Linked DNA regions of Homo sapiens: region 2 is linked to region 1. Evidence: fine-mapped expression QTL. A gene starts in region 1. The other region holds a variant in brackets. All regions are shown on one strand. Distances are between the middles of the regions. Region 1 holds the start of NRARP (NOTCH regulated ankyrin repeat protein). Region 2 overlaps EXD3 (exonuclease 3'-5' domain containing 3).

Evidence for each region.
Region 2: its variant is fine-mapped to the expression of NRARP in whole blood (INTERVAL, PIP above 0.99).

Annotation. Positions count from the first base shown.
Region 1 is chr9:137,295,380-137,307,358 of GRCh38, reverse strand. It overlaps NRARP (NOTCH regulated ankyrin repeat protein), which reads left to right and starts at 5,088. Exons shown (of 1, transcript NM_001004354.3): 1 at 5,088-7,728. The coding sequence starts at 5,431. The coding sequence ends at 5,775. It overlaps EXD3 (exonuclease 3'-5' domain containing 3), which reads left to right. Exons shown (of 22, transcript NM_017820.5): 22 at 96-463. The coding sequence ends at 409. RefSeq lists enhancers at 1-282, 4,871-5,789, 7,589-8,482, 10,123-10,790 and silencers at 4,529-5,168, 5,851-5,930, 6,001-6,060, 6,181-6,230, 11,704-11,979.
Region 2 is chr9:137,376,580-137,388,558 of GRCh38, reverse strand. EXD3 (exonuclease 3'-5' domain containing 3) reads left to right here. Exons shown (of 22, transcript NM_017820.5): 3 at 5,182-5,246. Among named protein-coding and RNA genes, the nearest start is that of EXD3, 41 kb to the left of the region's middle. The variant G/A (reference allele first, on the strand shown) is at 5,185.

The sequences.
Region 1 (11,979 bases):
GCTCAGCGTGGGCCGCCAACTGCACCACTCTGGGAGCAGCCTGGGGGCCGTGCCCGAAGGCTGAGGGCTCAGGGAGTCCACTTCTATCTGTCCAGGCCCAGCCCCAGACGCAGCCCCTGAGGGCTGCACCTATGACCGCCCCTGCCGCTGGCTGCAGATGGCTGACCTGCGGGCGGAGACACCGGACATGCTGGCCGACGGCACCCGGCTGCAGCTGGCAGGGGTCCCGGTGGGTGTGCTGAGGACACCTGGGCTGCGGTGCTTCTACTGCTGCACGGGCTGTGGAAAGGTCTTCTGGGACGGCTCCCACCTGGGTCGTGTTGCCACCCACTTCCGAGACATGCTGGAGAGCGCCCCCAGCCCCTGCGAGCCGAGCCCAGCCCCCAGCCCGGCCAGCAGTCCCTTCTGAGGACAGCCAGACAATAAACATGGAAAGTGCCCGACTGCTGGGCCCATGGCCGTGGACTGGCTCACATGTTTCATGCTCGCCCCACAAACCCCTCGTGGGCCCCTTTGTGCCAGCAAGCGCTGGGAACACCAAGGCGGGGTCCCAGCCCGAGCCGCTGTCGGGGGAAGACAGGGTTTCCAGATGGTCAGGATGCTGGGACCCCGAGCCTGGTGGGACCCACGAGGTCTCTCCATCACCCCCGTCAGGGCTGCGTGATTCCCACGGGAGAGCAGCAGCCACAGCCCCCACTAGAGGCACCTGGGCAGCCGGCCATGGCCAGGGCTCTGCACACGTGGACGCCAACGTCTCCGTCCTCACAGCTGCCTGGACGTAGCTGCTGCTGCCCCTGTCTGGGAGGAGGCTGAGGCCCAGGCGGCCACTGCTGCCCACCCTGAGGGTCCGAGGGTGCTCTGTCAGGTGGAGCAGGGAGGGCAGGGGGTCCCAGAGGTGGGAGAGGAGGAGAAGCCCGGGGAGGGACCATCCCAGGAATGTACCCCCTCCCCTCACCCACATCCTTTTCCTCTGCTTCCTGCCTGGAGCGGAAATCAGCTCAGATTTGGCCGAGGAGGTGGGCGGAAGCCTCGGGCAGCAGGGGCCTGGGGGCGGGCTGGGGAGAAGCAGCCGCCTCTGCCCAGAGTAAGGAGCAGGCTTCGGGTGCGAAGGCCTTGGGCATCCCTGGACTGGCCCAGTCGGGGCCTCCCTGTGGGTCCCGACCACACCAGGGCTGGCCACTGCCCCTGGGTACCCCTAAGGACTGCAGCCCAACCCCTTCAGCCCCCAGCAACCCCAGCAGGGGTGTCATTTCACAGATGGGGAGGGGGAGGCTGAGACGGGGAGGGCCTGGCCTGTGTCAGAGCCAACTCGAGTTTTGACCTGCCCCCTTGACCTGCTGGGCAGCCGCAGGGCGTGAGCCTGAGAGTCAGGTGGGGGCACCAGGGTGAGCAGAGCAGCACCCCAGGAGAGGGTCAGGGCCTTCTGGGACCGGGATCTGCTTCCGGGAGGGGAACCCCAGCTCCACATTCCTGTCCTGGGGAGGCAGCCCCGGACCGAACTCCTGCCTGGCAGGGTTTAAGAGGGAGTGGCTGAGGGCACCCACCCTCCACCCGGCCTGGCTGCATCCTGCTCCCAACACAGGCCCAAGTGCTGCTGCTGGCTCTCGGCAGAGGGAGGCAGAGTGGTGCAGAGGCCGCAAGGAGACAGAACCACACATCCTCCGTCCCTCCCGGCTGGCCCCGCCTCCACCCGCCCTCACTTTCCGCCATGGCCGTGCTGTGCCATATGTGTTTCCCGCCTCCACACGTCCCTCACTACCCAGCATAGGCTCGGCCTGGCTCTGCGGCGTCCATCCCAGGCCCAGGCTTTGGTGGGGGTGAGGCTCTCTGCCCAGTTCCCATCCTGGTCCAGGTGCTGGAAGCACGCCTCGGTCACTGGGGTCAGCACCCATCAGGCTGCTTCCTGGGCTAGGGGACAGACACCAGGCTGACCGGGTGGCCGAGGCTGCCAGTGCCAGGCCATGCCTTGAGCAGCCATCCCGGCGGGCAGGAGCCACCGGTTGCAGGGATTGTCTGCGGCAGTTCCTGCCCGGGCGTCCTTCCTCCGCCGCGGCCTGTGCTGGCCCGGGCTGAGTGTTTGTTATTTGATCTCGATCCTCTCAGCCCTTCTACCAGGTGTCTGGGCTGCTGGGAAGAAACACTCTCCTCTTTCCCACGCTCCCGACACATTTTAATGAATTAGCTGGAAGCCCCGCCCCCACTGCCCGCCACCCTCCCTCCCTGCTTAGCGCCTTTAAGGTGGCCGCAGGCCTCGGCCCAGCTCTGGCCAGCTGCCCCTTCTGCGCTGTCCTCCCTGGGCCCTCCCAGGCGGGCCGGCCACCCCGCACAGACCTCCCTCCCCATGTTGCCCACTGCTCTGAGCCTCCAGGGAAGGAAGGAAAGGGGGTGCATGCAAAGAGAAGGGGCCCCACCATTGCCTTCTGGGGGCAGGTGGGTTACAGGCAGGGCACCCCCGGGGCCAGCATCCTCAGGACAGGCAGGGGAGGAAGGACAGGGCCCAGCTGCACAGTCGGAGCTGAGCCTGTTGCCAGGTCCCAGGGCAGGGCCTCCCAGACAGCAGAAGGCTCCAAGCAACACCGGCAAACACCAGGGGGTCCTCTCGAGCACAAGTACTGGGTGGCTGGAGGTGGACCCCCGTGTCCCAGCATTTGGAACAGATGTCCACCTTTTGGATGTCCCTCAGCAAACATTCGGGAAGTGCTGACTCAGAGCTGTTGCCCCCCCGGCCCCTCCCCCCTTCCCATCCTCAAATGGAGCAGCTTCAGGGCCGTGGGTGTGCCCAGGGGAGCTGGGAGCCACGGTGGAGGAGCAGGAGCCAGGGCCACTCAGCGAACTCCCTGTGGGCAGTGTGGTGTGGCCAGCCTCTGAGTCCCACAGATGAGCCTGGGTACCTGCCTTGGGCCACAGCCACACTGCCGTGGCAGGCCCCACCACCTCTGCCTGACCCCGCTCTGGACCCCGGGCAGGGGGTAGGTTCCCGCCCTGCAGGGCCGCCACACCAGCCTCACTGTGCCTGCCGGGGCGCCCGCACCGCCTGGCCCTCGCCAGGGGCCGCTGCCGATTTCACGCCCGTGGCGGGGCCCCGCGTTCCCACACCGAGCTCACACAGGGCCCCTTTGTTTGCCGCCGCCACGGATGCCGACGGCACTTTCTCCCAGGCCCTGCTCCTGGCCCACAGCATAGCCAAATGCCTTCTCCAGGCCCGGCTTGAGCCCACCTGGGCTTCGGCCTGTTTGCAAACCACCCACCCTCCAGGGGAGGCCCTGTGCCTGTTGAGCACCAAGGGCTCTGCCCACCCCCCAGTCATGCCCTCTGCCTCTTGCCAGTCTAGCCTGGCTGGGCCCTGGGCATATGCACAAAATCCATCAATGCCCAGGACAGAGCTCCTGCCCTCCTGACAGTGAGCTCAGAGCACCCTGCACACCCAGCCCTGGTCTGAGGTCCAGAGACACAGCCAGCACCAGGGACCAGCAGGCAGCCCAGCGGCTCCCCCTCCTTAAGAGGCCAAAGGTGCCCAGCAGAGCACGGCAGGCCAGGCCATGCCATCCCTGCCCCGGGCCTGGGCTCCACAGCGCCCATCTCTGTTCTGCTGGGGGCCTACTCCGGGACTCCACTGTGTCCTCACCTGCATATTGGGGAGCACCCCTCCACCCTCCGTGGCCCCCTTGAGAGCTCCTGGGAGAAGCAGTGAGGCCCAAAGGAGAGAGCTGAACAGAACCAGCGGGATCACGGCCCCAGGAAGACCAGAGCGAGCTCTGAGCTGTGCCTTTGAGGGACAGAGGTTCCCAGCCCACCAGGAGGACCCCAGGGCCTCAGGACCCTGCTCCGGTCAGCCAGGGTCTGTCCCGAAGGGAGCCTGCCCAGTTTTTCCTGCCAGTATGGGCACAGCATGGGGTGGGGACACACCCCTGTGGGGAGCCGGATGTGGGGACATGGAGCTGGTGGGCGGAAGCCTCCTCAGACAAGGCCTGGCATGGGGGTCTCCCCAGCCCGAGCTCAGAGCTGCCTGCGCGGAATTCCCGGCTTGGCTTCAGAAGGAATTCAAGCCCCAGCCTGCCTGGCCTCCTGCTCCGCGCCTGAGAATCACTCCTCCTTAATTTCCAACGACCACAGCGAGTTGTAAACTGTAAAACTCTAATGAGGAAATGCGCTGTGCTTCCCCTGCTAGTGCCTCCCGGTCAATTGTTAGAGTGGTCAATAAAAATGGGTTTTACAGTTTGGAAGCCAGGCGTTTCAGAATTCCCTTCTGGCCCTGGCGCCACACCTAGCCCTGCTCACCTGGGCAGGACCTATGTGTCCCGCATGCTGGTGCGTGGGCAGCAGAGGGAGGCAGGCCGCGGTCCCGACCCTCCCGCTGCGCCCCGGCCCGGGGCTTCCTCCCGAGAGGACAGCGGAACCCCCTTCACCGCCAGGCGATAGAAGCCGCGGTGGCCGGCCGGAGGCCCCTCGCATCAGTACGGTTGGGGCACACATAGGCTGAGCCGGCGGCCATGAGGCTGCCCGCGCGCGGGAAGGACCCGCGTGGCTGAAGGCCCCACGTCAGGGCCTGGAGTTGCCACCCGCGTGGACGGTGAGCCCGGAGGCGCGGGCTGGCCGGGGTCGCCGCGCGCCTCTCCGCTCAGAGGGGTCTCTCCTTCGCCACGGGCCTGAGATGCCCGCGAACCCCCTGCCCGGGAGAGGCCGCCCTCGGGGCCACCTGGCGGTCGCGCTCGGGTACCGGGCAAGGCCTGGGTCTGGCTGCTGAGGGAGCTTGGAATTCCCCGGGTGGCCGGAGGGAGAAGGGGCGGGACGACCGCAAAGAGACGCGGAGCGCCCGGGGGGCGCGCGGACGGCGGCGGCGACGGAGCTGGACCCCCCCGGCGGCCACCTGGCCTCCCCCGCCCAGGCGCTGCCGGCGACCAGCGCCCCCTGCCGCGAAGCGCGCCGCCGCCGGGACCCGCCCCCGGACCCCTGCGCACGGCACCGCCCACGCCCCGCCCCCATGTGGGCGCGGCCCAATCCCGGGGCCGCCGGCGCGCGCGTCACGGGCTGCCATTGTTATGCAAATATAAAGAAGGTAAAAGGCGCCCCGGCGCGGCGGGCGAGCTAGTGCTGCGGCGCGTGGGGAGGCGCCTTGGGACCGCGTGGGAGCCGCAGCCGAACCGAGTAGGGACCGGGACCGCGCGGCGCCGCCGTCCCCGGCCGGGCCCGGCCCCCGCGAGCCGAGCGCGCGCCCCCGTCGCCCACCCGGGCGCGGCTGGATGCGGCGGGGTCCCCGCGGCGGCGACCCCCGGCCCCGAGCGCCCGGAGCGCCCAGAGGCGGCGTGCGGGGCCCGGGGACGCCGCGCCCTCCATGCGCCGAGGCGCGCCCCGAGACAGCCGGGGGCCCGCGCCGCAGCCGCCGCCCGCGCTGAGCCCCGGCCCGGCCCGCGGCCCGCGCCCGGCGGCAGCATGAGCCAGGCCGAGCTGTCCACCTGCTCCGCGCCGCAGACGCAGCGCATCTTCCAGGAGGCTGTGCGCAAGGGCAACACGCAGGAGCTGCAGTCGCTGCTGCAGAACATGACCAACTGCGAGTTCAACGTGAACTCGTTCGGGCCCGAGGGCCAGACGGCGCTGCACCAGTCGGTCATCGACGGCAACCTGGAGCTCGTGAAGCTGCTGGTCAAGTTCGGCGCCGACATCCGCCTGGCCAACCGCGACGGCTGGAGCGCGCTGCACATCGCCGCGTTCGGTGGCCACCAGGACATCGTGCTCTATCTCATCACCAAGGCGAAGTACGCGGCCAGCGGCCGGTGATGCCCGCCGGGACCCCGGACCCCGGCCCTGCGCCCGCGTCGTCTCTGCTGTACCTTCCCGCCAACTACCTCGGTGCGCGCCCGGCTCGCAGGCCCCGCCAGAAGGCCCGTGGCCACGGCGAATACGGCGCGTGCGTCCCGGCCCCAGGGTCCGGCAGCCCCGCCGGCCGAGCGCCTCCCTGCGGCCTAGCCGGGCCCGGCCGGGCCGGAGCAGCTTCCCACGGCCCCCACCCGCTCGCCTGCCCGCCGCCTCGCGGGTGGGGGCGGGGCGCGGGCTCCAGCCCCTTTTGAAATTTGAGTCTCGCAACCAGCAAGTTCGGAATCCCGAGATACCGGATCCTCTGCGCAAAATGTTTTCTCCCGAAGGTGAAAGGCGGGCGGCGGGAGCCGAAGGCGGACTCGGAGCGCTCCGCCGCCGCCTTCAGGACCCGCCCGCAGGCCCGGGACGCGCCGATGCCGGCTGCAGCCGAGGAGCAGCCCCGAGGTCCGAGGTCCGCGCCGCTGGCGCGCGGCCGAGGAGACGCTCGGCTGTTCGCTGTTGCTGGTGTTCTAAACTATTTATCTTGTGTGTGTACATTTGTGGGTGGAGTTTGTGCGCCTGGTTTTTTTGTTTGGAAAACACTGCGTGGTCAATGTGGTTATGGGGGGGAGTGATGCATTTTTTTCTAGTCTTAAAACTAAAAACTTGAGTCTACCATTTCTTGGTTGCACTGAAAATACCGCCCAGCCTGATGGTGTTCCCGTGCTGTCCCTCCCCCTTCCCTTCTCCCCGCGTCTACCTCCCCACCCCGTTCTGTTCCCCCTCCCTCCTTCTCCCTCTCCCTCAAATCCGTGAGTTTTGGAAGCCCCAGGGCCTCTCTCCCCCGCCCCTCCTGGATGAGGCCACCATCCCCCAAACCGGCTTGTTTTGCAGTTTCCCCAGGATCCTGGAAGCTCGCTGGCGCTCGAGGGTGGCGGGGACACGGGGGGGTGGGTGAAGGTTCGTTACCTTTTCTAGTGCGTTCTATCATAGTTAACGGTTGCACACTTTTTTAAAAAAAGTAAATGGATTTGCCACAATTAAATGTCATAACATTTATGACAGAATATAAAATATTAACATATTTTAAGCCAAGTTTTAGGTGTATTTTTTGAATCTTGGTTATAAACCCAATTTTAAAGGGCGATGTATCCAGCGTTGTGAAGGCAACAGAGTGTACCCATATTTATATTTTTATAAAATACCTATAAGACTGTGAATCTCTTGTGCTAATGGCTGAGTTAATTGAAGGATCGTTTTGCCCCTTTTTAGCCTCCCAGAGCTTCGAGGACTCAATTCGAACCCGAAATCCTGCCGTGGGGGAGGGGTTGCGTCGAGACCTGGGCCCGGGGAGGTTCTCCTGCGTCACTTTCTGTCCTGAAAGGCGCCCTTCCTGGTTTCTGTGGCTCCAATTTTCTATGCAGCCCCACACCCCTTGTTGTTTTGATCCTGAGAAATAAAAGGGAGGCTGAATTATTCAAATTTAAATGAGGTTTCCCCTTCATGGAAGTGCTGCTGACCCTTCGTGCAGAAATGGGGAGCACTTGAGGACACAGGTGGGTGGAGGCCCTTTGTGCGTGGCTGGTCGTATTCGGGCAGCCCTCCGTCGCTTTTTATAAAACTTTGTGTGAGAAGAATATATTGATAATGTCAGTGAAACAAGCAGACATTGAAATGGAGGCACAGATTACTCCACAAGGAGTTCTTCTGTATATTTTTTCTAGATGCAAATACCTTTTTAATTATGTTAATTAATGTTAAGACTTTCTAGGCTTATATCGAAGCTGTGTGTGGGTCACGGGGTGATCACTGCTAACTGGATAAAGTTTGTGCAGCACATTCCTGAGTGTACGATATTGACCTGTAGCCCAGCGTGAAAAATTTATAAATAAATTTTTCATTGATCTTTTTATATTAAAAAAAAGTTTCTTGGTCCTTCTTGGCTTTGGCACAAGTTGCAGAACACCCTCTCTGGGGACGAGGGTCAGGCTGTGACACGGTTTGTGGGTGCTGGGTGCACAATGCTTGGCTTGTATTTGTCTGAAGACAGAGCCTGGTAAACTCGCTCCCAGCCCCACGCAACGGCCAAGCCCAACCCGGCTGCACACAGGACTCACGAGGACCCAGCACCTCCAGCGTGCCCAGAGCTGGTGTCACAGCCTCTGCTCTGTTCCCCAGCAAAGCAGCTGAGACCTCCGCTGGAGAGGAGAGTTCGGCCTGAAGCCCTGCCCACTCTGACCCGCTAGGGGGTCATGCTGGAGGCTGCCTGCTGCACAGAAAGTGTATCTTGTAAATTGGGGGGAAATCCCATAGCTGCTCACTCCTGGCAGGTAGAAAGTCCCCTGGAGGCACCCGGGAGCTTTGGAGGCCTGCACAGGCCTGGAGTCAAAACACCCCAAAGAGCACAGACCCTGAGTTAGACGAGCATCGGGGCCGGGCACTCCCATTCGCAAGAAAGGAGAGCAGAGCAGGATGGCTGTTGCTGGCACCTGACAGAAAGGAGCAGAGACTCTTGGTCCACTCCTGAGATGCCCTTGGGGCCCTGGGGGCCCTGTACCGGGCTGCAAGGGAGCACACCCGCCCCCAGCAAGAGCAGCCAGCAGAGAGAACTTGGAGAAGGGCAAAGACCGGGAGTTACAAGGTAACAACTTTTCAAACCCCTCTGCCGAATGTAAGGGGAATCTGCTTCCCTAAACCGTGTCCGCAGAAGGGCTGCCCTTCCCACAAACTTTCCCCACGCCTCCGCCTTCCTACTCTGCACTGCCGCCCTGTTTACCCTTGGTTTTCCAGGCGCGTTTTCCGTCGGTTACGCATTTCCTATCCTGCAGAATCGGCCTGGGAGATGGGCCAGCTCCCTGAAGCAGGCTTTGGGAAGTCTTGCCCTGGGCCAGCCCGGGAATGCCCAGCCGTTGGAAAGGAGAGTGGCCACAAGAACCTGGACACGATTGGGGTAACCAGAGAATGAGGTCAGGCAGCCCCAGTGATGGCCAGGGCTATGCTGGACCACTCCACCCTTCCCCACCCAGGGTCTGAAGAACAAAGGTAACATTTGTTACTGGCATTAGCCTGCAGGTGGGTGGGGTCCCAGCCAATTGCTTGCCCCTGCAATATCCGGGAAGTTCTCCCACTGCGGAGAGGCCTGGCCTGGCACCAGGGGCCTCCCAGGCACATGGCTGCCACCCCAGGGTACTCTTTGCAGCTCCCTTAAATTCTGTCTTCTGAAAGATACATTTGACTGAGAAAGGCCTTGTGCTGCTCTTCTCTCGCGCAGGAACAAAAGGAAGCCTGCCCGGGCAGCCCTGTGGGCAGCTGAGGAGAGGAGGGCTGAGAGGGTGGAGCCCTGGAGGGGGTCTGCTTCCTCCCCAGGTGTCGCTGTGTACACTGACCGGCCCGGATGACTGGGGACAGCCTCGCTGACCTTTCTTGCCAGGCACAGCCCTAGGGGGCAGGTAGACACACACTCTAAGACCAGGCACAGCCCTAGGGAGCAGGTAGACACACTCTAAAACCAGGCACAGCCCTAGGGGGCAGGTAGACACACTCTAAAACCAGGCACAGCCCTAGGGAGCAGGTAGACACACACTCTAAAACCAGGCACAGCCCTAGGGAGCAGGTAGACACACACTCTAAAACCAGGCACAGCCCTAGGGAGCAGGTAGAGACACACTCTAAAACCAGGCACAGCCCTAGGGGGCAGGTAGACACACACTCTAAAACCAGGCACAGCCCTAGGGGGCAGGTAGACACACACTCTAAAACCAGGCACAGCCCTAGGGGGCAGGTAGACACACACTCTAAAACCAGGCACAGCCCTAGGGGGCGGGTAGACACACACTCTAAAACCAGGCACAGCCCTAGGGGGCGGGTAGACACACTCTAAAACCAGGCACAGCCCTAGGGGCAGGTAGACACACTCTCTAAAACCACAATTTTCTTCCCACCTCTGGGGGTCAGATTTATGAATGAAATCTCAGCTGGGAGGGTCCAGGTGTTGAGAGCCCAGGAGGACGGTCCGGGGACGCTGAGCACAGCCTACAGGCTTGTCCTTGTTAGGAAGCCCGGGGTAGCACATTCCTAGAAGCAGCTCAGTGGAGGGGGAGGCTGGCCACCTGTGCGCCAAGAGTGGGCCTCCCTGGCCACAAGGGGAGGGGGGGGCAGCTCTGGGGTATGGGCAAAAAGGAGGAAGTACCTGGTCTCTGGGTATGGCCAGGTCGATGCTGCTATGTGTCTCTGATGCCTGTTTCCCTCCTGAGTTCAGGGGCCTGTGCACACGCTTCTTCCAGTGCTTCTGTGTTCAGCAGGTCACTTACTGCAGCAGGGTGTTGGTAGGTATTAGCAGCTATGGTGGGTACTGGCCTATGGCAGAGTTACTGGGGAGTCCCCAACCCCCCTCCCCAGGCAGGCCCCTTTGTGGCCAGGGTGAGAAAGAAGGTCTGGGTGGCCCAGCCTACACCGTCAGCCCCGGCCTCCCAGATCTGCAGGTGTGCCTTGGAGGCCAGGTGAGGTGTCCGGCCGAGAGGCACGGAGGACAGCCACGGTGGAGGGGCTGGCAGGTGGGGGCTGGGTCCCTGGGAACCCCTGAGAGAAAGGAGACAGTCCCGGCAAGGTCAGGGCCTGCCCCACATCCCCCGCCAGGACTGCTGGGCTCCCGTCCAACTGTCTGTCTCTGATCTGACCCCGGCTGGAGGCAGGAAGCACTGACGTTGGAACAGACGCCACGGAAAGACCAGGAAATGCAGGAAGATGGTCAGCTAGAAAGAGTGATGTCTGAAGCCAGCAGGCGTGGGAGCCAGGACACAGCAGGCCAGAGGAGGGTGGACAGGACTTAGAAGCCAGGGAGACGGGTGCAGGGAAGGAAGAGCGGGAAGGAGCTGCCCGCTGGGGTCTGTCCCCCAAAGGCCTCATAGCTCAGCACAGGTTGGGACAGAGGGGTCGTGGACACTAGAACACCCGGCGCACAGAGCCTCCGACATCGGTAAGGCCAGCTGCCCCTGAAGCTCCCTGAGCCTGCGGGGAGGAGGCAGCGTCCACCTGGGCCTTGAAGGACGGGAAAGGAGGCCCCGCGCCAGGGACACCTGGGGAAGGAAGCCTGAGGCCGGGATGCGACGGCTTGGAACACGGGAGGGGCCGTGGAAGGTCTGGGAACCTCCGCAACTGCTGCTTCCAGGGCCTCCAGTGCAGACCCTCCGGGGCTTGGAGGTCCCCGGGAGGCCGCCCTCCACCCACCCCCGCACACTCAGGCTCCACCGCCCGGAGCCGCTCCCCCCGCTGGAAACTCCCAACACCCGTCCGGCGCATTCTTCTGCCGGGCCGTCCTTCCGACCGTCCTCCGCGCGTCCGTCTGTCGGTCTTTCTTCTCTCGCCCCTCCAAAGCCGCGGCCCCCATTCATTCCCGAGGCCTCTGCCCTTTCCTCCGCGCCGTCCGGCTCGGCGAGCAGCTGCTATGCTAATGAGGGCGGGGGGCTGGGGCCGGGGTGCGGGGGGAGGGAGCCGGGCCGTGGGGGGCATGTGGGGGTGGGGGCAGCCGCTCACAAAGCCCGATCTCTACATTCAAAACCAGCCGGGCCATTCCGGTCCCCAGCGCGCCAGGCGGGGACGGCGGGGACGGTGGGGACGGCGGGGACGGTGGGGGCGGGGCGCCTGCGCACCCGGAAAGCGCCCGCACCGCGAGGGGCGAGGGCAGAGCCGAGGGCCGGGCCGAGGGGGCGCACCCGGCTCGCAGCGCCGCGCACCCACTCGCCCCAGCGCTGGGGTCGCGGCCTGGGACGCGCGGCTCGTCCTGGGGACCCCGCCCCGCCCACCAGACGCCGCCGCGCGTGGGGCTAGAGTGCGCCCGGCGCAGGTGGGGAGGGGGGTCCGACCCAGCGCGGACCTCGCCGGAGACACCCCGCCCGCCCCGGCCCGGTCCGCGGGGGCATGCGAGGCAGGGGAGGGGGCGCGCCCGGGGCTCCCACCGACCTCGCCCGGGCGCAAGGGCCGGAGCCCCCGGGTTCCCGAGCCTCGGAGCCGCCGCGGCTGTGCTGCCGCCCTGTGGCCGCCGCCCGCACTGCGCCTCGGGCCCGGCCGCGCTCCAGCGCGTGCACCCCGCACTCCGCCCTGCCCCGGACCTCCGCGGGCCCCGAGTCTTCCTGCCAGCCCCTCGGCCCCAGGGAGGCGGGGCGGGCGCCGGGGTAGACGGCGGGGCCA
Region 2 (11,979 bases), 81 kb before region 1:
AAAGCCCCCTGTGTTTCTCATCCCCGCTTTATGGTAGAGTGTCGGGAATAACAGAGCCTTCGGCGCCACCCACTCCACAGCCCACAGTTTCCCGCGTGCGTCTGTGTCTCAAGGTGAAGGCAGCCCCATTAGCCGGGTGTCGTTTGGAGGAAGTGGCGTCCCTGTGTTCTGCCCATCCTGCGTCCCTGCAACCATCCGTCCTCCCGTCGGCCGGCGCGGGGGTGTCAGCTGGGGAGCCGTCCTGGGGACAGATGGTGGAGCCGTCCTGGCCGCCTCTGCCTGGACACCCTCAGGCCAACCCCACAGAGTTCCTGAGCCCTCCCAGGCACGTTTTGGGGAGGGTGGCTGGGGGGGAAGCCAGTGTGGGCACCAGGCTCTGGTGCTGGGCAGGGACCATGATTCAGCCCCCCAGAGAGAAGCAGCCCAGCTCTTGGATGTGAATCCACATTCGGGGGACTGTGGGACTTTTATTCTTGAGCTTGAGTTTTTTCTAGGTGTCCTCCTAATACACAGCTGCCCCGCTCTGCCCCCACCCACATGGTTCCAAGGGGCAGGGTCCAGGGTCAGGGCCCAGCCTCCTGGCCAGGGCCATCTGTCTCAGCGTCCTAGACCTGCCTGTCTGCAGGTCCCAGGCATCGGTGCAGCACTGATGAACTTGGCGAATTCAGGGAACTTGGGCCTGGGTGTGGAGGTGGGGGCCAGAGGCCACCCACGGAGCTCCGGCCAAACATCCACGCTGGGGACCAAAGGCCCCCAGAAGCTACTGCACGAGGAGGCGACCTCAGGGAGGGCTGGCTGGGGCTTCTGGGGCCGGAGAGCGGGTCTGGGAGGTCCCTCGGTGTCAGCTCCAAGCCCCACCCGCCCTTCTCGGACCCCGTGCCCCTGCGTGGTATCCCTGAGTTGGGGTGCGTGGGGTGCTGTGTGCTGAGTGGGGTGTGTCCCCCAGGGCTCTCCCAGGCACCCTGTCCTCTCACTGCTGAGCCCTGGGGCTCACAGAGCTCGCTTGTCTTCTTCGTTCAGACAGAAGCCGCCCCTGGACATCCTGTTTTTCTTCTGTTGTATGAACAGGAAGCCAGCAATTGTGTGGGATGAGTGTCAGCATGGCCGTGTCTGAGCCCGGCACGGCAGACACTTGTCCCGCCACACCTGCCATGGGTCCCTCCAGCTCTGGCCCGAGAGACTCAGGGCTCCCCAGGGCTCCCCAGTTGCGTGGGCTGTGAGCACCATGTGTGCACGGCTGGCCCTGGAATGGCTGGGGCGGGCACCGTGGAGTGTCCATCGTGCACCGGCCATGGCCTGGAAGGAGACCCAGGCGGTCACTGCCCTGGGGCTCAGCGTTGAGGCCACAGTGAAGCGACAGGGGCAGAAGGGCAGGGGCCGGGGGCCAGGCAGGGAGCGGGGGCCGAGGGCCAGGCAGGGAACAGAGGCGCTGAGGGAGGCAGACAAGGAGTAGGGGCCGGGGGCCAGGCAGGAAGCAAGGGCCGGGGGCCAAGCACGGAGCAGGGGTGCTGAGGGAGGCAGGCAGGGAGCAGGGGTGCTGAGGGGGCCAGGCAGGGAGCGGGGGTGCTGAGGGAGGCAGGCAGGGAGCAGGGGTGCTGAGGGAGGCAGGCAGGGAGCAGGGGTGCTGAGGGAGGCAGGCAGGGAGCAGGGGTGCTGAGGGGGCCAGGCAGGGAGCAGGGGTGCTGAGGGGGCCAGGCAGGGAGCAGGGGTGCTGAGGGAGGCAGGCAGGGAGCAGGTGTGCTGAGGGGGCCAGGCAGGGAGCAGGGGTGCTGAGGGAGGCAGGCAGGGAGCAGGGGTGCTGAGGGGGCTTCCGGGCAGGCTGCTGGGTGCTCGAGAAGCAGCCTCAGGCCCAAGGGGCAGGGTCCAGGTACACGGAGGTTGGAGGCTGGGAGGATGTGGTGGGCCCTGGCTTTGACTCTCAAGGCTGAGGGGCCACGGTGGAGTCCATAAAGTGGCCTGGCCTGCCCCATATTTCTGTAGGATGCTAGGGCTGTGCCGTGTTGCGCGGCTGGGTGTTGTCTGAGGGCACAGCGTCAAGGCAGGGAGTCCCCTGGGAATCTGGAGTGGCCCAGGTCGGTGGGAGGGGGCAGACCCTGCCCACCTGGAGGGCAGAACCAGCAGGACCTGAGCAGGGCAAAGACCAGCAACACTGACTGGGGAGTAGGAGGGCCGGCATCACCAACTTCCCACCTGGAAAGGTGGATCTCGATTTGGAGAACTTAAAAAGAATAATAAGGACACCCTGCTTATTGATGGATGGATTGATTGACAGGTTCTCACTCTGTCCCCCAGGCTGGAGGGCAGTGGCACAATCAGGGCTCACTGCAGCCTCAACCTCCCAGGCTCCAGCCATGCTCCCACCCCAGCCTCCCAAGTGGCTGGGACCTCAGGAGCGCCACCATGCCCAGCTAATTTTATTTATTTTGGTAGAGATGGGGTCTTGCTGTCTTGCCCAGGCTGGTCTCAAACTCCAGGGCTCAAGCGACCCACCCACCTCAGCCTCCCAAAGTGCTGGGATTACAAGTGTAAGCCACCTTGCCCAGCTTCACCCTGCTTTTAAAAATATGTGAAATATACATAACATGAAATTTACCATTTTAACCACTTTCCTGTGTACACTCAGTGGCATTAAGGGCACTCATGTGGCTGCACAGCTGCCACCACCGTCCACCTGCAGAACCTTCTCATCTCACGCATCTGAAACTCTGCTTTAAAAGAAAATCTGGGCTGGGCGCGGTGGCTCACGCCTGTCATCCCAGCACTTTGGGAGGCCGAGGTGGACGGACCAATTGAGCTCAGGAGTTCAAGACCAGCCTGGCCAACATGGTGAAAACCCGTCTCTACTAAAAATACAAAAATTAGCCAGGCGTAGCGGTGAGCGCCTGTACTCCCAGCTACTCCGGAGGCTGAGGCACGAGAATCACGAACCTGAGAGGTGGAGGTTGCAGTGAGCCGAGATCACAGCACTGCACTCCAGCCTGGGTGACAGTGAGACTCCGTCTCTAAATAAAATATTAACTTAAATAACAAAATAAAAGTCTCTTTTGTTTATTGTGAAGTGCAACCCATGTGTAGGAAGGAACGCAGAGCACATGATGCGGCTCGGCACATGATCGTGAACACACCACAGCACGCCCCGCCCAGCCCACCCTGGCCCCATCGCCAGCCATGCCCAGCATGCAGCACCCAGAATGCGGGGCCAGTCACACTGCCTGCCATGGCCACGTGGTGGGGTACGTCCTCCCCACCTGGGCATCGTCCCGGGGCTGATGCACTTGCTCCGTCCTCCTACAGTGGACATTTGAGTGTTCTCAGCCTCTGTATGCAGCACACTGTGCACGATGGTGGGACGGTTCTGAGCGCAGACGGGAACACTGGCCTGTGCCACCCAGGCCCAGGTGGCTGCAGAGACGCCATGGTGGAGCCTGGGCGCCCCACGGTGTTTTATGGTTTTTTGGTTTTTGTCTGAGACGGAGTCTCGCTCTGTTGCCCAGGCTGGAGTGCAGTGGCCCGATCTCGGCTCACTGCGACCTCCGCCTCCCGGGTTCATGCTGTTCTCCTGCCTCAGCCTCCCGAGTAGCTGGGACTACAGGCACCCGCCACCATGCCCAGCTAGCTTTTGTAGTTTTAGTAGAGATAGTGTCTCACCACGTTGGCCAGGCTGGTCTCGAACTCCTGACCTCAAATGATCCACCTGCCTCGGCCTCCCAAAGTGCTGAGATGACAGCCGGCTGGGTTTTGTTTTGCATGAGCTGCTTTTGTTACATTTCTCCCAGGGAATCTGACATTGCTGATGCTGTTGTAAGTGATTTTTGAAATGGCCATTTCTGTTTATTGCTGATTTTCTCATTTTGGCTTGTGCTGAGCATTGATGCCGAACCCATTGGTTAATTCTAACGGCGTAGTTTTGATCCTTCGTGGCTTTCTGTGTAATCAATCACATTGTCGGCCGGTCCTGATGTTTCTGTTTTCCTTCTGCATTGGATGCCACCTGCTTGGGACGGCTCCAGGCCGGGCTGTGGCATCCTTACGTGCTGCCCTGAGCACCACGTCTCACGCTCGCCCATGGCTTTTACCCAGTTCAGGGCGCTCCCTGCCCGTCCCAGGTGAGTTATTTCTTAAATTGTGAGCTGAACTGAATTTTAGAACACTTGCTCTGTGTCTACCGAAAGGGCCACGTGGTTCTCTCCTCCGTTCCGGTCCTGGGCTGAATCATAACCTTGGACTCTCCTGTTAAGTCAGCCTGGCTCTCTGGGGTGACCCCCGTCACACACGCTTCTCTGGCGTGTGTGGCAGAATCCAGCTGCTGAGGTCTGATCTGATCTCATGTGAGTCCTCAGCCTCCCTCGCAGCAACACGGGGCCTTCCCTGTTCCCGTCCTGCCCTGCAGGGGGGCCCAGCAGCTTCCACAGCCCCCCAGGTCCAGGGGGAGTTCACTGCGGAATCCACCCAGGCTCCTGTCCTCAGGCCTCCCCTGTGGAGTCCCTGCTGGCACCTGCCCCTCCCTGGCCTCCGACCCTGACCCTACCACATGACCAGGCCTGAGTGGGTCTCCACTCCCCTGCACCACCGGCCTCCAAGCCAAGCCACGCAGCCCCTGGGTTCTGTCTGGAAACCTCCCTCGGGTCTCGCTCTGGTGGCCCTGTCCGTGTGGGGCAGCGTCTTTGGTTGGCACTTTTGCTGCAGTGAGGTCGGGGGCCTCCCAGGCGGGGCTGGAGGGAGGGGGCGGCGCGGGAGGGCCGGGGACCGAAACCTAAAGAGGGCAGGGGCTTGGGGTCCTCGTGGTGCCAGGACTGCGGTGCAGGGTTTGGGTGAGAAGATGCTGATGAGGTTGCCGAGGGCGCCAGGCGGAGCAGGTAGAGGCTCAGGCCCACGAGGGCTGCTCTGCACCTGCAGCTGAAAGATGAGGCCCAGCTCCCAGGGCTGAGCGTGGTTGAAGTGCTGCTGGGCGGACTCAGCTGGATGGGCGGCCACGGGCCACAGGGAAGGAACAGGGTGGGTGCTGCCGCAGCTGGCAGGTGTGTTGTGTGTGTGCCAGACAGAGGTGGGGGAGGGTTCCCGGCCCCCCGGGTCCAGAGGAGCCCCAGGCATTGCGGGTCAGTGGGAGGGACTTCCCGGCGGGCTGTGCGATAGCCCCTGCACCTGCCTCTCCCTCCCACGGCTGTTATCTTATCTCCACAGGCC[G/A]GGACCCCCTCCTGCTCCTGCAGGCCCTGCAGACCCTGTGGTCCACGCGGGAGCGGAAGCAGGTGAGTGGACGTGGCAGCCACCACGTGCCAAGTCACAGCCAGCAGAACTGACTGTTGGGCAGAGACTGGCCTAACAGGAGGCCTCCCTGGTCAGGAAGCTGCACAGCCCCCCACGGCCACAGGGTCCTGCACAGCTGCTGCCCCAGACCGCCTCCAGGGTGGCCTGTGTGGGGCAGGGGGCGGTCCTCCTCAAGTCCCCAGGGTGGTAAAGGCACTGCCTGGCCCCAGCAGCCCCTCTGAGGTCACCTCTGGGAGGCGCAGGGGCCACTCACCTGCAGGGACACAGCTGTCGCCAGCACTGCCAGGCCTGAGGCCCCGTCCTGCCACCGCCAGAGCACCCAGGCCCGGGTGGCCACTGGGGCAGGTGTCCAGGACAGGGAGGCCTTAGGAAGGGGTGGGACTTGAGCAGGGCAGGAGGCTGGGCGGGAGAGGCCAGGGGAGAGGCTACAGAGGGAGGGCCGGCCCCCTGTGGGGGCAGACGCGGATTCCGGCTCCTTAGTGGCAATGGCCTGTGCACAGGAAGCTGCCAAGTCCTGAGTGCCGCGTCCTCTGGCCCGAGGTCGCTCCTGCAGGTCCGGGGGACGCCCTCCAACCCCAGCCCAGCTCCTCTGAGTGCCACATCCACTGGCCTGAGGTCACCCCTGCAGGCCCGGGGGATGCCCTCTGACCCCAGCCCTGGCGCTGCCTGCTCCTGTGTCTGCCTCTCTCCTGCACCCACCTCTGCCAGCTTTCGTTTGTCCATCAGCTCGGTGGCTTCTTGGGCCTCCAGCTTGTGAATCTCTGTCCTTGCTTTTGAGATTTCCCTCTGCCGTTCCATTTCCAGGCTCTCTTGTCGGACCTTCGTCTGTGACGCTCAGTCTTCCTCGCTCTTTGGCACCTGCGTGTGTGGTGTGAGCCTCCCCGGGTCCCGCCCTCTGCCCCCCGCCCCCCACGTGTCTGAGTTGTGGGATTCCACTGTCCTTTCCTCCCTATGTCCTGACATTCGTCCTGGCGTCTCCTTGGAGCAGCGCTTGTTTATACACAGACAGGGCTGAGATCTGCTCCGGGCTCCGCTGACAGCCATGAGGCCGTCAGGCATTTCATCTTCATGGGGTGGGCCTGTGTCTGTGCCCTCACCTCCTCCGCGCGCCCTCACCTCCTCCGCATGCTCCCACCTCCTCCCCGCGCCCTCACCTCCTCCCCGCGCCCTCACCTCCACCGCCGCCCTGACCTCCACCGCCGCCCTGACCTCCACCGCGCGCCCTCACCTCCTCCGCGCGCCCTCACCTCCTCCCCGCGCCCTCACCTCCTCCCCGCGTCCTCACCTCCTCCCCGCGTCCTCACCTCCTCTGCGTGCTCCCACCTCCTCCCTGCGCCCTCACCTCCTCCTCGTGCTCTCACCTCCTCCTCGCGCCTCCATCACATTCCCGGATTCCAGCAAGCTGGCGAATGCCACATGCCCAGTGGCCCTGGGTGGGCCAGGAGCCTTGAAGATGGGGTCCTTGGGGGTCCTGGGTGCTGAGGAGAAGCCCAACCCTAGAGCCGGCTGCACATGGAGGTCTTGGGGACCCCCATATGGTGGCACAGACGCCGGGTGCCCCCAGAGGAGGGAGATGAAGACCAGGATTTTGGAGAACTCCTTGGGGCGGTCTGCAGTATAAAGGGGGCAATGGGACTGTTGGCCGTCTGGGAGGGCTTAGGTGTTCCTCTAACGTGAGAGAGGAGCCAGCACACCGGGCGGGTGAGAGCAGCCTGGGAGACGGGCAGGAGGAGGAGGCAGGGCTGGGGCGGGGTGAGGGCCTGGAGTAGGCGCACTCCCAGAGTGGGGCTCCCCTGGTTCATTGGGCCCTTCCCAGCCCCACTGCCCAGCAGCCTGTGGTGGGGTGTTCCTGTCTTTTTTTTTTTTTTTTTTTTTTTTGAGAAGGAGTCTTGTTCTGTCACCCAGGCTGGAGTGCAGTGGTGCAATCTCGGCTCACTGCAAGCTCCGCCTCCCGGGTTCAAGGGATTCTCCTGCCTCAGCCTCCGGAGTAGCTGGGATTACAGGCGCGCGCCACCACGCCCGACTAATTTTTTTTTTGTATTTTTAGTAGAGACGGAGTTTCACCATGTTGGCCAGGCTGTTCTCGAACTCCTGACCTCAGGTAATCCGCCCGCCTCGGCCTCCCAAAGTGCTGGGATTACAGGTGTGAGCCACCGCACCCAGGCTTTTCGTGTGTGTGTGTGTGTGTGTGTGTGAGACAGAGTCTTGCTCTGTCACCCAGGCTGGAGTGCAGTGGCATGATCTCGACTCACTGTAACCTCCGCCTCCCAGATTCAAGTGATTCTCTTGCCTCAGCCTCATGAGTAACTGGGATTAATAGGTGTGCAACACCACGCCTGGCTATTTTTGTATTTTTAGTAGAGACAGGGTTTCACCATGTTGGCCAGGCTGGTCTTGAACTCCTGACCTCAAGCAATCCACCTGCCTCGGCTTCCCAAGATGGTCCTGTTGTAACAGGGTGGTCCTATCCTAACAGCCCCTCGGGGGGGCCTTCTGGTGCTGCTGAGCCCATGGGACCCCCCCAGCCCCACTACTGAAGCCGTGAGTGGAGCCAACAGCTCAGTGCAGGGGATGCCAGCCAGCAGGGAGGAAGGGGGATACCGGCGGGGGGATTGGGGGGGATGCCCAGAGGGGGGTTGGGGAGGAGGGGGGATACGGGTGGGGAGGATTGGGGGGATGCCCAGAGGGGCATTGGGGTGGGGGGGAACCAGTGGAGGGATTGGGGGGGATGCCCAGAGGGGGGATACTGGTGGGCGTTATCGGGGGGGACGCCCAGAGGGGGGTTGGGGTGGGGGAGATACCGGTGGGGGGATTGGGGGGGATGCCCGGAGGGGGGTTGGGGTGCGGGGGATACTGGCGGAGGGATTGGGGGGGACGCCTGGAGGGGGGTTGGGGAGGAGGGGGGATACCGGCGGGAGGATTGAGGGGGATGCCCGGACGGGGGTTGGGGTGGGGGGGGATACTGGCAGGGGGATTGGGGGGGACGCCCAGAGGGGCATTGGGGTGGGGGAGCTCACATTGTTTTCTCCGTGCACAGCAGGAGGCTCTTTGTAGCTGAGGGGACCAGGAATGAGGAGTGAAGACCAGTGAAGGGCTCGAAGGGAGGAGGGACCGGCAGGGTGGGTGGGACGGCTTCCTTCACAGGGACCCCGGGAGGGAGGCAGGCAGCGCAAGGGGAGCCCAGTCTCAGAGCCATGGGTCCCAAGGGTCTTGGCACGTTCATTGAGGCCACCAAGATAAGGACAGGAGCTGGAAGGAGATGCCTGGGCCAGGACTGAAGTCTCCCGGAACAACGGGCTGGGACCCTGAGGCTGGCAGGGGTGCAGTGGGCACTGGGTCCATGTGTGGCTTGCGCTGGCCGACGTGGGCACACAAGGGGCACAGCTGCCACTGGGGGCCTGGAGGGGAGGACCCAGCTGGGGTCTGGAGGGCCAGGATTTTGCAGAAGGTTTACGGGACTGAAGCAGGAGTGAGGGAAGGCGGGCTGTGGTTAGAACGGGTGCTGCAGAACTCCGGGGGTGACAGAAACCAGCCTGGGCGAGAGCGCACCCCAAATCAGAGCCACGGAGCGTCGGCTTCATCGAATGCTTTATTGGGGTAAGATGCACGACATATAAAACCAGCCGTTTCACAATGAGTGACTCAATGGCCTGGAGCGCCCAGTCGTGCTTCGTGAATCTTTCTACATCTTCACAACCTGTGCACCTCTTCTGGTTTCAGAATGGTTCATCGCTTCAGAAGCAAACCCCGTACCCCTCACACAGACGCCCCATTCCCCTCGGCCCCAGGCAACGGTCACCGTCACCCGCAAACCCCGTACCCCTCACACAGACGCCCCATTCCCCTCAGCCCCAGGCAACGGTCACCGTCACCCACAAACCCCGTACCCCTCACACAGACGCCCCCATTCCCCTCGGCCCCAGGCAACGGTCACCGTCACCCGCAAACCCTGTACCCCTCACACAGACGCCCCCATTCCCCTCGGCCCCAGGCAACGGTCACCGTCACCCACAAACCCCGTACCCCTCACACAGACGCCCCATTCCCCTCGGCCCCAGGCAACGGTCACCGTCACCCACAAACCCCGTACCCCTCACACAGACGCCCCCATTCCCCTCGGCCCCAGGCAACGGTCACCGTCACCCACAAACCCTGTACCCCTCACACAGATGCCCCATTCCCCTCGGCCACAGGCAATGGTCACCGTCACCCACAAACCCCGTACCCCTCACACAGACGCCCCATTCCCCTCGGCCCCAGGCAACGGTCACCGTCACCCACGAACCTTGTACCCCTCACACAGATGCCCCATTCCCCTCGGCCCCAGGCAATGGTCACCGTCACCCACAAACCCCGTACCCCTCACACAGATGCCCCATTCCCCTCGGCCCCAGGCAACGGTCACCGTCACCCACAAACCCTGTACCCCTCACACAGACGCCCCATTCCCCTTGTCACACAGGCCCTAGCCACTGCTCACCCGCTTTCTGCCTCTGGATTTGCCACTTCTGGACAGTTCACACACATGCGGTCACATAACATGGGGTCTTTTGTGACTTGCTTCTTCATTTAGCACGATATCAAGGCTTGTCTATGTGGATGTCTGTGTCAGCTTCCTCCTTTTCCGTGGCTGAGTAATACGTGGCCAGGCCACATGCTGTTTCTTCATAGACAGCTGAGGGTCATCTGCGCCATCTCCACCTCTGGCCGTTGTAAATAAGTACTTCTCTGAAAATTCATCTACAAACATCTGCGTGAGCCCCTGTTTTTAAATCTTTGGGGAGGACGGGTGTGGTGGCTCACGGCTGTAATCCCAGCACTTTAGGAGGCTGAGGTGATAGGATCACCTGAGGTCAGGACTTCAAGACCAGCCTGGCCAACAATGGCGAAACCCCATCTAAACCAAAAAATACAACAATTAGCCGAGCGTGGTGGCATGCACCTGTAGTCCCTGCTATTTGCGAGGCTGAGGCAGGAGAATCACTTAAACCCCAGAGGCGGAGGTTGCAGTGAGCCAAGATCATGCCACTGCACTCCAGCCTGGACGACAGAGTGAGACTCCATCTCAAATAATAAATAAATAAAAATAAATAAACAAATAAATCTTTGGGAAACTGCCTGGAATAGAATTGCTGGGTCATGTGGTAATCATGTTTATCTTTTTGAGGAACTGTCAAACTACTACTTTTATTAAAAATTTCAGCCAAGTGCAGTGGCTCATGCCTGTAATCCCAGCACTTTGGGAGGCCAAGGTAGGCGAATCACGAGGTCAGGAGTTTGAGACCAGTCTGGCCAACATAGCGAAACCCTATCTCTACTAAAAATATAAAAACTTGGCCAGGCGTGGTGGCCTGCACCTGTAATCCCAGCTACCTGGGAGGCTGAGGCAGGAGAATCACTTAAACCGAGGAGGCAGAGATTGCAGTGAGCCAAGATCGCACCACTGCACTCCAGCCTGGGCGACAGAGCAAGACTCTGTCCCAGGAAAAAAAAAAAAAAAAAAAATTCAACGACTATTTTTTGTTTTCAAAGTTCTCTTAGGTTTCCTCCCTCCCTCCCTTCCTTTCTTTTTTGACAGAGCCTGGTTCTACGTCACCCAGGCTGGAGTGCAGTGGCGCAATCTCAGCTCACTGCAACCTCCGCCTCCCAGGTTCAAGCGATTCTCCTGCCTCAGCCTCCTGAGTAGCTGAGATTAAAGGTGCGCATCAGCACGTCTGGTCTTAAACTTCTGACCTCAAGCGATCCTCCCACCTTGGCCTCCCAAAGTGCTGGGATTACAGGCATGAGCCACCACACCCAGCCTTAGGTCCTTTTTGAAATCTGCCTTTCCCTTTTTTTTTTTTTTTTTAGAGACAGAGTCTTGTTCTGTCACCCAGGCTGGAGTGCAATGGCACAATCTCAGCTCACTACAACCTCCGCCTCCCGGGTTCAAAGGATTCTCCTGCCTCAGCCTCCCAAGTAGCTGGGACTACAGGCTCCACTATGCTGGCTAATTTTTTGTATTTTTGGTAGAGACGGAGTTCCGCTATGTTGCACAGACTTGTCTTGAACTCCTGAGCTCAAGCCATCGGCCTGCCTCGTCTTCTCAAAGTGCTGGGATTCCGGGCGTGGCCACTGCGCCTGGCTGATGCGTTGTTCCTGCATTTGCCCACCGACTCTCTGTGTTTGGCTGTAACCACGTTGCACGCTCAGTCAGTCGCTTGCTGCTCACAGAGTCCAGGTCAGAGGAATGAGGTCTGGTAGAAAGAAAGTGACTTTTTATTCCGTAGCTGGCTTGAGGGAAGAAGCGCAGGCCTCATGCCTGAAGGGTATGGGTATGGCTTAGCTTTTGGAGCAGAAAGAGGCTTTTTTTTTTTTTTTTTTTGAGATGGAGATTCTCTCTTGTCGCCCAGCCTGGAGAGCAGTGGCGCAATCTCGGCTCACCGCGACCTCCGCCTCCCAAGTTTAAGCAATTCTCCTGCCTCAGCCTCCCGAGCAGCTGGGATTACAGGCATGTGCCACCATGCCTAGCTAATTTTGTATTTTTAGTAGAGACGGGGTTTCTCCATGTTGGTCAGGCTGGTCTCCAACTCCCGACCTCAGTTGATCCGCCCACCTTGGCCTCCCAAAGTGCTAGGATTACAGGCGTGAACCACCATCCCCGGCCAAAAGAGGCATTTTTAAAAGGTCGGGAGGAAGCGAGCAGGTGGGGGGGTCTCTGTGCCTTATCTACCT